Regions from separate parts of the Homo sapiens genome. Here region 2 is linked to region 1. The links come from fine-mapping of genetic effects on gene expression. Tissue or cell type: sun-exposed skin. Region 1 holds a variant in brackets; the other region holds the start of a gene. All regions are shown on one strand. Distances are from middle to middle.

Region 1 (4,242 bases):
GCTGTGAGCCAGGCATTTTACTAGTTCTCAGGATTACAAAGACAAAAAAGATACGGCCCCTCCCCTAAGCAGGTCATACGATGTGAGAAAAAGTAGAAATAATCACAATAATAGTATATTTTTATAGTTTATATAATATTATGACCCCCATTTCATTGAGAAATATCCAAGGAGCTTAAACCAATTATGTTGTTTTTCCCCTCACAGCAGGTGGACGGCAAAAGTCAGAAGATCATCTAAGACTATAGGAGAGGGAAAACCCATCATAGTTGGGCTGAGTAATTTTGACTCAAGTTATAAAGTTGGATACTGATGTCACTCCCTGTTCATCAAGTATCATCTAAGGAATATAAAAAGACTTTGTTCAAGCACATATGCCCTGCTATTTTTCCTGGAATTTCTGTCATTAAAATCACTCTGAAGCAACATAACCATAAACCTTTGACAATTTTACCTGAAAAGGATAATTACTCAAAAAGTCATTTTTACATCATGATAAATAACCTTACCAAATACATGATAGGTAAGTTTTATTAACCTAAGAAAAGGATAAATGACATATTTTTAGCTCTTCTTCTCAAATTACCACCAACAAGATGTCCCACCACATCCTCCAGGTGAACATTTTAAAATCCAAGTCATCATCTCCACCAAACCTTTCTACCCCAACCACCCACACCAACCTTCTCCACCCAATTTCTCCCTCACTAATGTTGCCATTTTTCTCTCAGTCAGTCATATAAGCTTAAAATCTTAAAGCTAACTTTGATCCCTTTTTTTTGTCTCCACTGCTCAAGATCTATGGACACACTCTAGCATATCTCTTTCTCTCTCTCTTTTAAAATTGTGATAAAATATGCATAACATAAAATTTATCATCTTAACCACTAGAAGTGTACAGTTCAATATTGTTAAGTATGTGCAACCAATCTCCAAAACTATTTTCATGTTGTGAAACTCTAGACCCTTTAAACAACCCCACATTTTGTCCTCACTCCAGCCTGTCAACCACCATTCTATGTTCTGTCTCTATGCATTTGACCATTCTATAGGTACCTCATATCAATGAAAAACACAATATTTGCCTTTTTCTGACTGGCTTATTTTGCTTAGCTTAATGTCCTCAAGGTTCCTCCAAGTTGTAGCATGTGTTAGGGTTTCCTTCCTTTTTAAGGCTGAAAAAATATTTCACTGTGTGTATACACCACATTTTGTTTATCCATTTATCTATCAATGGACAGTTGGGTTGCTTCCACCGTTGGGCTATTGTGAATAATGCTGCTGTGAACATGGGAATACAAATATTTCTTAGAAACTCTCCTTTCAGTTCTTTTGGGTATATACCAAAAAGTAGAATTGCCAAATCATATAGTAACTCTATTTTTAATTTTCTGAGGGACACCATACTATTTTCTATAGTCTACCAAGCCCTTCCCTCATTCCTTTGCCCATGACCTCTGCCTTCCCAGCCACATTAACTCCACCTGCTGAAACACTCTCACCTCTTAGAAACAATTTCACTTGGTACTGGCATTGCATAGTCAAAATGCTCCCTCCAAATTCGAATGTCTATCAGCCTATGATTCATCTTCATAGCTCTTATGCATCCATGTATGTGTCCTCGGAAACATGCATGTGCAATGTCTTCTTTGCTACAGTGAAAAGCCTTAAAGGCAGGGAAGTGAACTATTTTATTTGCTGCTAAAACTCCAGCACTCTACATTGCTAGGCATACAATAAACAGGGAAGAATTGATTATCTTTAAAGTTGAAGGCTTCATATTTTCCTAAATATGACTTCTACTCTCACTTTTGAAATTACAAACTCTTAGAATTGAATCAAGTTTATAAATGATCCTTCCAGAGATTCTCTGAGAGCTCTTTATTTGAGGCTTTAATTTTCTAGTTTGACTGTCTGTAATGATCAGATCGAAGAGATAATGGCTAAATAGCTGCTTCTCTTGGGGCAATATAGAACCAGTCATCACTGGATCTCATATTGGACTTTCTGCAATTAGCTCTCTTTCCTTTAGTTACAATCATTGTCTTCCAAATGCTGTATGCTAAGAAATAAATAATGAATATCTAATATTGTAGGAGTCTCACAGTAACAGATTCGAGGAACAGATTCAGTAGGTCTAGTATTACTATGTCAGTGAGAAATTTAAAGCTTGCCTCCTTTTTAATTGGTTTATTATTGTTTTCCTTCTCTATTGGACAGATTATAATAAAAGAATCATGACTTTTGCCAAGGAGAGATGACATAAAAATAAGTTAAGACAGGAGAGAATTCTACATGCATGGTACAATTTTAAAATAAAATTATAATACATAATAAAACACAAAATGAGTTGCAGCTGTGGTCTGAAAATCTTAAATAAGTCATCGAAGAGAAAATTGACTAATAAACAATCTCCCACACACTAACAAATCAGTGTACATATGCAAATAAAATTAACTCATGCTATAAAAGGCTAAAAAGAAATCCATAAAACATGTTGTAAGCTGCCATTTTTCCAGAATCGTTGGAGGAGAGAGGCAAAGAGTGGTCAGGTCCTGTTAAGCCTGGGTTGGGGAGGATAAGATCACGAAGTGAGGAAGAGGAAGGTGGGAGCAAAACCAGGAAGTGACAAAAGAGCATTGAACGCTTGGTTCT[G/T]AGAATTATAAGTTTTTCTGGCTGCCTTGATACATCTTACCGGGCCAGAAGCAGCATCTTAAAGAGCCAAACCATGCTGCACATGCCTATCTTTTATCTCCTATTTGTAAGCTGAGACCTGTGTATTAGATTCATGTTTGTACACACTAACAAAGAACTAGCACACCATAAAACATTTAGTGCATGCTTAAGACATTTTTAAAGAGTGAAATACTATATCTTACAGTCTATGTTAAATTATTAACTAAGATTTTTCTGTGATTTATAACCAGGGTCTTCATATATTTCACTTTACCTGGAACGTCCCAGTTAACACTACAGTCCAAGCATAGTTCTCTCTTTCACTCTCGAAAGTGCTCAGGTTTGGAAGATAAATTTCATGATGAATCAATATAGTCATCTAGTTTATGGCAGTCTGAAAGTTGATTTCTAGAATTCTCTGTCGTCAACTTGTTTACTGGCCATTGTCTCTTCCTCATCAAAACAGAATAGATTATGCAAGTTAACACTGAAAAGACTATAACTCTGGATTCCAGATAAACAAATTTAGTTATGATTCTAACATTAGCAGTTTTTTATAGAAAAATCATTTTCTAAAGTCAAAGAATATTTAAAGCAACATAACATTTTATATAATTAATTTCTTCCCAATATGAATGTATAGCAGAAATGTTAGTACCTTCAACCTTCTGGCATATCATTAAATATAGGGCAACAGCCATACTGAAAATGAATTCACTCCATATATGTGTTTATGTGTGTGTATACATATGTGTGTATTTGGGAGAATGGAAACATTTCTGATGCTCCCAGGAACATAAGAGACTTTGGGTTATGGTTGCCGTACTTGGCAATGACTTCATTGTTGGATTTGTATAAAAAGATAAATGAGGGGCAATTTTTATCTTTTGTAGAAAAATTTTTTAATTGCTTCAATGTATCTTACTATGGCTGCTTCTAGCATGTGCCATGTGGTTTGTAGGAATTAGGAAAAAGTCACCTCTTTGGATGGACCCTGTAGAAAAAGGAGTTTTCCTTTCTCCATGCTGGACCAGGGCTAGATCATAGGCTGGATTGAACCCCTTTTCACTGAGAGGGGTGGCCCTGATTGTAAAACTAATTTTTTCTACCTTACAAAATAGATACAGTCCCATAAAGACTGCCTGTGAAGGAAATCACCATATTTTACATCCTACTTTTTCACTAGAATTTTTCAAAGGTGTCCATCTAAGAGGGGGATAAAAGCACCCTTTATAATGCATGATAGTGGTAGAGGGAAGCAGGTGGATTCTATTTTAGTCTGCAGAGAAGCTTTGGAAATCTCAAAGTTTAAAGAAACGTAACAAACACTTGATAAAAATCTTAAATCTACAATTCAAATAAGTAAAAATCTATGAATTAAAAATAGCTAGAATGCTTTTATTTTGAGGATTTTATTGCCAAAGACCAAAAGATTAAAAGAACAGATCAAACTGAGCTTAAAAGTCCCTGGTTTTTAATTAAACTTCTAAAATACTAGAACATGCAAACATGCTGTTCTCTTATATGAATATCAGATAGATAATCATCATGATGACGACAACGATG
Region 2 (4,242 bases), 530 kb after region 1:
TGTTTGACAGAGCAATGGGCAGGAGAGTAAGTCCTGTGGGTTAGAATTACCTACAAGATGTTGTCCAACTTGGTATGTCCACTCCTGGGCAGACTCAGGGCAGATAGCAGATTGTCCCCACTCTCCTCCCATTTTAGCTCCAGGACTATCCTGGACGCCGGGCACACTTAAATTGGTCCACTCTCAACTAAAATGAAGATTTTACACCTATTCAGAGACTCCAATGAGCTCAAAGATCATTTCATTTTACAAAAAGGGAAACTAACCTAAATTAACATAGATAGCTGGTGACGGATTGAGGCCTAAAGTCAGATTCTTGAGTGGACTGAAACTACATATCCCCAAATATCTGAGAAATCTTTGTGGTTCTTTTGCTATTTCTCCCAAACTACAGAGACATATTCTTAAAGGAAAAGCAAAAGGCAACAGTTTCTTCTCCAAGACTACCCAGATCTTTTTCCATTTGCTAAAAACAATCAGGACACCCTTCTAAGATGTTGCTCTAAAACTAGCAATATCTTCTTCTGAAAGAATGCCACCTTTTTCCTTTACTTTTAAAAATAAAACATCGGCCGGGAGCGGTGGCTCACGCCAGTAATCTTAGCACTTTGAGAGGCCAAGGCAGGCGGATCACCTGAGGTCAGGAGTTTGAAACCAGCCTGGCCAACATGGCGAAACCGCCTCTCTATTAAAAATACAAAAAAATTAGTCGGGCGTGTTAGCTGGCGCCTGTAATCCCAGCTACTCGGGAGGCAGAGGTTGCAGTGAGCCGAGATCGCGCCACTGCACTCCAGCCTGGGTGACAAAGGGAGACTCGGTCTCAAAAAAAAAAAAAAAAAAAAAAAACAGGCCAGGTGAGGTGGCTCAGGCCTGTAATCCCGGCATTTTGGGAGGCCAAGGCGGGCGGATCACGAGGTCAGGAATTCAAGACCAGCCTGACCAACATGGTGAGACCCTTGTCTCTACTAAAAATACAAAAAGTAGCCTGGCGTGGTGGTGCGCGCCTGTAGTCCCAGCTACTCAGGAGGCTGACGCAGGAGAATCGCTTGAACCCGCGGGTGGAGGTCGCAGTGAGCCGAGATCGCGCCACTGCACTCCAGGCTGGGCGACAGGGTGAGACTCCGTCTCAAAACAAACAACAACAAAAAATCGGCCCTTAGCCCACTAATACTGTTTTCTCTGGGATACTCCCATTAAGTGGAACTTGGGGTTTCCAACCTCAGTCAGTAGTTTTCCTTCAGTAGTCCATATACTACATTTCCTGGGTCAATTAATTCCCAATTAGCCCAGAGATGAGGAGCAGTCCGCCAGCTGCTAGCCTCATAATTTTGTTTTCTTTATTGTCCTTCATTGCTTCAATGAACAGAACTTGCAAGAAATGGTGAAAAATACTTGCTTTTGTCCAGTTGGAAAAAGCTGGCATTCAGTAAACTAATTTAGTTCAAGACAGTGATCAGATCTCTTTCCTAAGGATGAATACATATTTGTAAAAACTGAGCAGTCAGTTATGTGTCATGATTATTCATAAGAGTGTAAACCAGTCCTGTTAACTCCAAAAAGCCATTAAAAAAAAAAAGGTCCAGATAATATGAGTTCATCCTTTCATGCGTTTTAGGCCCTACAACTACTTTCAATGCCTCTGCGAATGCCTTTATTGAAAGCATATTTGCCAAATCCAGCGTCCACGCAAAAAGTTAAGAGTATCCCCCTACTCTCCATTCAATCTTCAAATCTCCTTGGTGCCTCTCTCCCGCCTACCCTCGAATCACCGCACAAGGGTGATTCCCGGCACTCCACCCTGAGGTCCCCGCCTAGGTCCACGTACCAGAGCCCCGGCAGGAGACCCGCGGCCCGTCCCGACCAGCCCGCCCGCGGGGCGCAGGGGCCTGTAGGTGTGTCCCGCGCGCTCCGCCGCTCGGTCAGTCGCCCGCCAGACCACTAGCCCCTCCGTCGGGCCGAGAATCTGACCTGTCCCGCTCCCACCGAGCCCTTGCCGACCGGTAGTCTCCCTTCTCAACTCCGAGCCTCGGGGCCCGGCTTACCTCGGTCAGGAAGCCCCCTTCACCTACACGCAGCGGAGAAGCGCCCAAGCAACAACGTCTGCACCCAAACCCAGTCCTCAGAACCGCAGACGTGGCCCTGCGTGGCTTCCGGCTCGTCGCCACGCCCCCTGGCCAATCACGGCAGAGGACTATCCGCCAGCCCCGCCCCCGCCTCGCCGCAGGTCGCGCGCAGCTGGCGCCTGAGGAACTGCGGCTGCGGTTCCGAGCGGGGTCTGGGGCTGTTACCATTGAGTGACCAGAAAGGGTGAGGCCCCCGCGGTGGCCCGGGGGTTGGGGCCGAGGGTCGCGGGCCCTCAGAGCACTGCGGCCGCGGAGGCACAGCCTCCGCCTCCAAATCCGGGCCTCTGGGGGCGGCAGGCCCTGCGTTCCTGGGAAGCCGGGGTTCCTAGTGGTCTTGGCTAGGGGCGGGGGTGGGGAATCAGCCCCGTCGCTGGGCCTCGGACAGGGCGACCTCGCCCACAGTGAGCGCCGCCGGCGGCCCGCATCCCCCTCTCCGACGTCGAGGTCATCTCCCAAACCTTTGAATCTGGGAAGCCTTCTCCGGCTGCCGTCTCCCCGGGTACCCCCTTCCCCCAGCTCACTGTAAACATCTTTTATTTAATGACCTCTGAGACACCCCCTACCCTTATCCTGGGTCCCTCGGGGCAGAGGCCAGTGAATCGTAAACGTCCGGAGCCCTGGAATGCGGCCCAAGCGAAAAGGCCACCGCGGTGTTGGGGGGGGGCGGTCCGCGAGTCCAGGACCGAGGGGTGGCGACTGGCGCTGGGGAACTCGGAGCCCATCCTGCTGGCACTGCGGCCTCTCTCGCCGCAGCGTCTGGCTCCGCCCAAGCCCGAGCCCCGGGTGGGATTGGAAGCCGGGCCCCAGCCTTTCCCAGAATTCAGGCTTGCAGAGCGTCTGCAGGTGTCTGCCTGCCACCTGCAGCGGGACAGTTCCAAACACCTGTTGAAAGTGCAGATTCCCCTATCTAGTGCGGGGTGCGGGAGGCGGGAACCCGGAGCCCGGGTACGCAGAATATGGGTTTTTACGGAGTGTTTTAGAGGATGTTGTGCATACTAGATTTTGGAGTCAGGAAATAAAGAAGAGTGCAAGTGTCTGGTTTGTGCCCCTAGCTCTCGGTGCAAAGCGTTCCTGCAGAATTGCTTCCACGTAAAGGGACCTTCGGGAAATTTCGCTGGATACCGGCTGGCATTGACAAACCCAGCGTCCCTGAGCCTTGTGAGGTTTCCAGGCAGGCTGATTGCGAGGCAACATGTCTGCTTCGGTGAAAGAAAGCCTTCAGCTTCAGCTACTGGAGATGGAAATGCTGTTTTCTATGTTTCCTAACCAAGGAGAAGTAAAACTTGAAGATGTAAATGCCCTGACGAATATAAAGAGGTATTTGGAAGGCACAAGGGAGGCGCTGCCACCAAAAATCGAATTTGTAATTACACTCCAGATTGAAGAGCCCAAGGTAGGTACCCTGATTTAAGTGTTTGCCAGGTGCCCAGTTTTTAATTGAAACATCTAGAACATGAGCTTTCTGTCAAGGAAAGATAGAAATATTCCAGGTGCATATTTCCTTGTTTGAAAGATACGGAATGCTCTATAAATTGTCTTCAGTAAATATCTTTAATTTTATGTAAACATATACACCTTTTTAACAAATATACCTGGAGTTTTTATTGACGCTATCTTGCAGTCTTATGCCATTATTATTTTGTTCACCCATCCAGTTGGACTACCTTTCACATGTATCATGATTTTCATAAATCTAAATATCTCCTGTAACATAACTGTCTTTTAAGGAGTGAATGAGTGGATTTTTTGATGGCACCATAACACAGAAAGCAAATATGGATGGAAAAATCTAAAGACTAAAAATGAATTTACCTCCATCTTCTGATCCATTTATCTCCAGCAACATTAGCATAGCATAGGTAATACGTGGACTGGGCATTTGAGAACCACTGTTGTAGCTATTTCCTACTCATCCTTCAGTTGTTATTCCCTCAGAGGAGACTTTCTGGTTCTCCAGACTGGATTCTGTCCCGCTGGTTACACACTTCAATGGAACCCTCCACTTTTCCATGGTAATGCTTTTCACAATTGAAATTAAATACTTGCTATATGTAATTATTTGTTTAATGTGTGTCTCCTTCACTAGGCCCTGGACTTCATGAAGGGCAAAAATAGTGTC

Evidence for each region. PIP is the estimated chance that this variant, and not a neighbour inherited with it, causes the effect. A credible set is the group of variants that fine-mapping cannot tell apart.
Region 2: it holds the start of RWDD2A, and the variant in region 1 is the best candidate, but not a certain one, in a credible set for the expression of RWDD2A in sun-exposed skin (GTEx, PIP 0.52).

What each region holds. Positions count from the first base shown.
Region 1 is chr6:82,656,350-82,660,591 of GRCh38, forward strand. All of the region lies in intron 5 of LOC105377876 (a long non-coding RNA gene), which reads right to left. Among named protein-coding and RNA genes, the nearest start is that of TPBG, 290 kb to the left of the region's middle. The variant G/T (reference allele first, on the strand shown) is at 2,656.
Region 2 is chr6:83,191,137-83,195,378 of GRCh38, forward strand. RWDD2A (RWD domain containing 2A) reads left to right here and starts at 2,221. Exons shown (of 3, transcript NM_033411.5): 1 at 2,221-2,307; 2 at 3,176-3,516. The coding sequence starts at 3,316. PGM3 (phosphoglucomutase 3) reads right to left here and starts at 2,129. Exons shown (of 13, transcript NM_015599.3): 1 at 2,043-2,129. RefSeq lists silencers at 1,780-1,849, 2,150-2,519 and an enhancer at 2,092-2,591.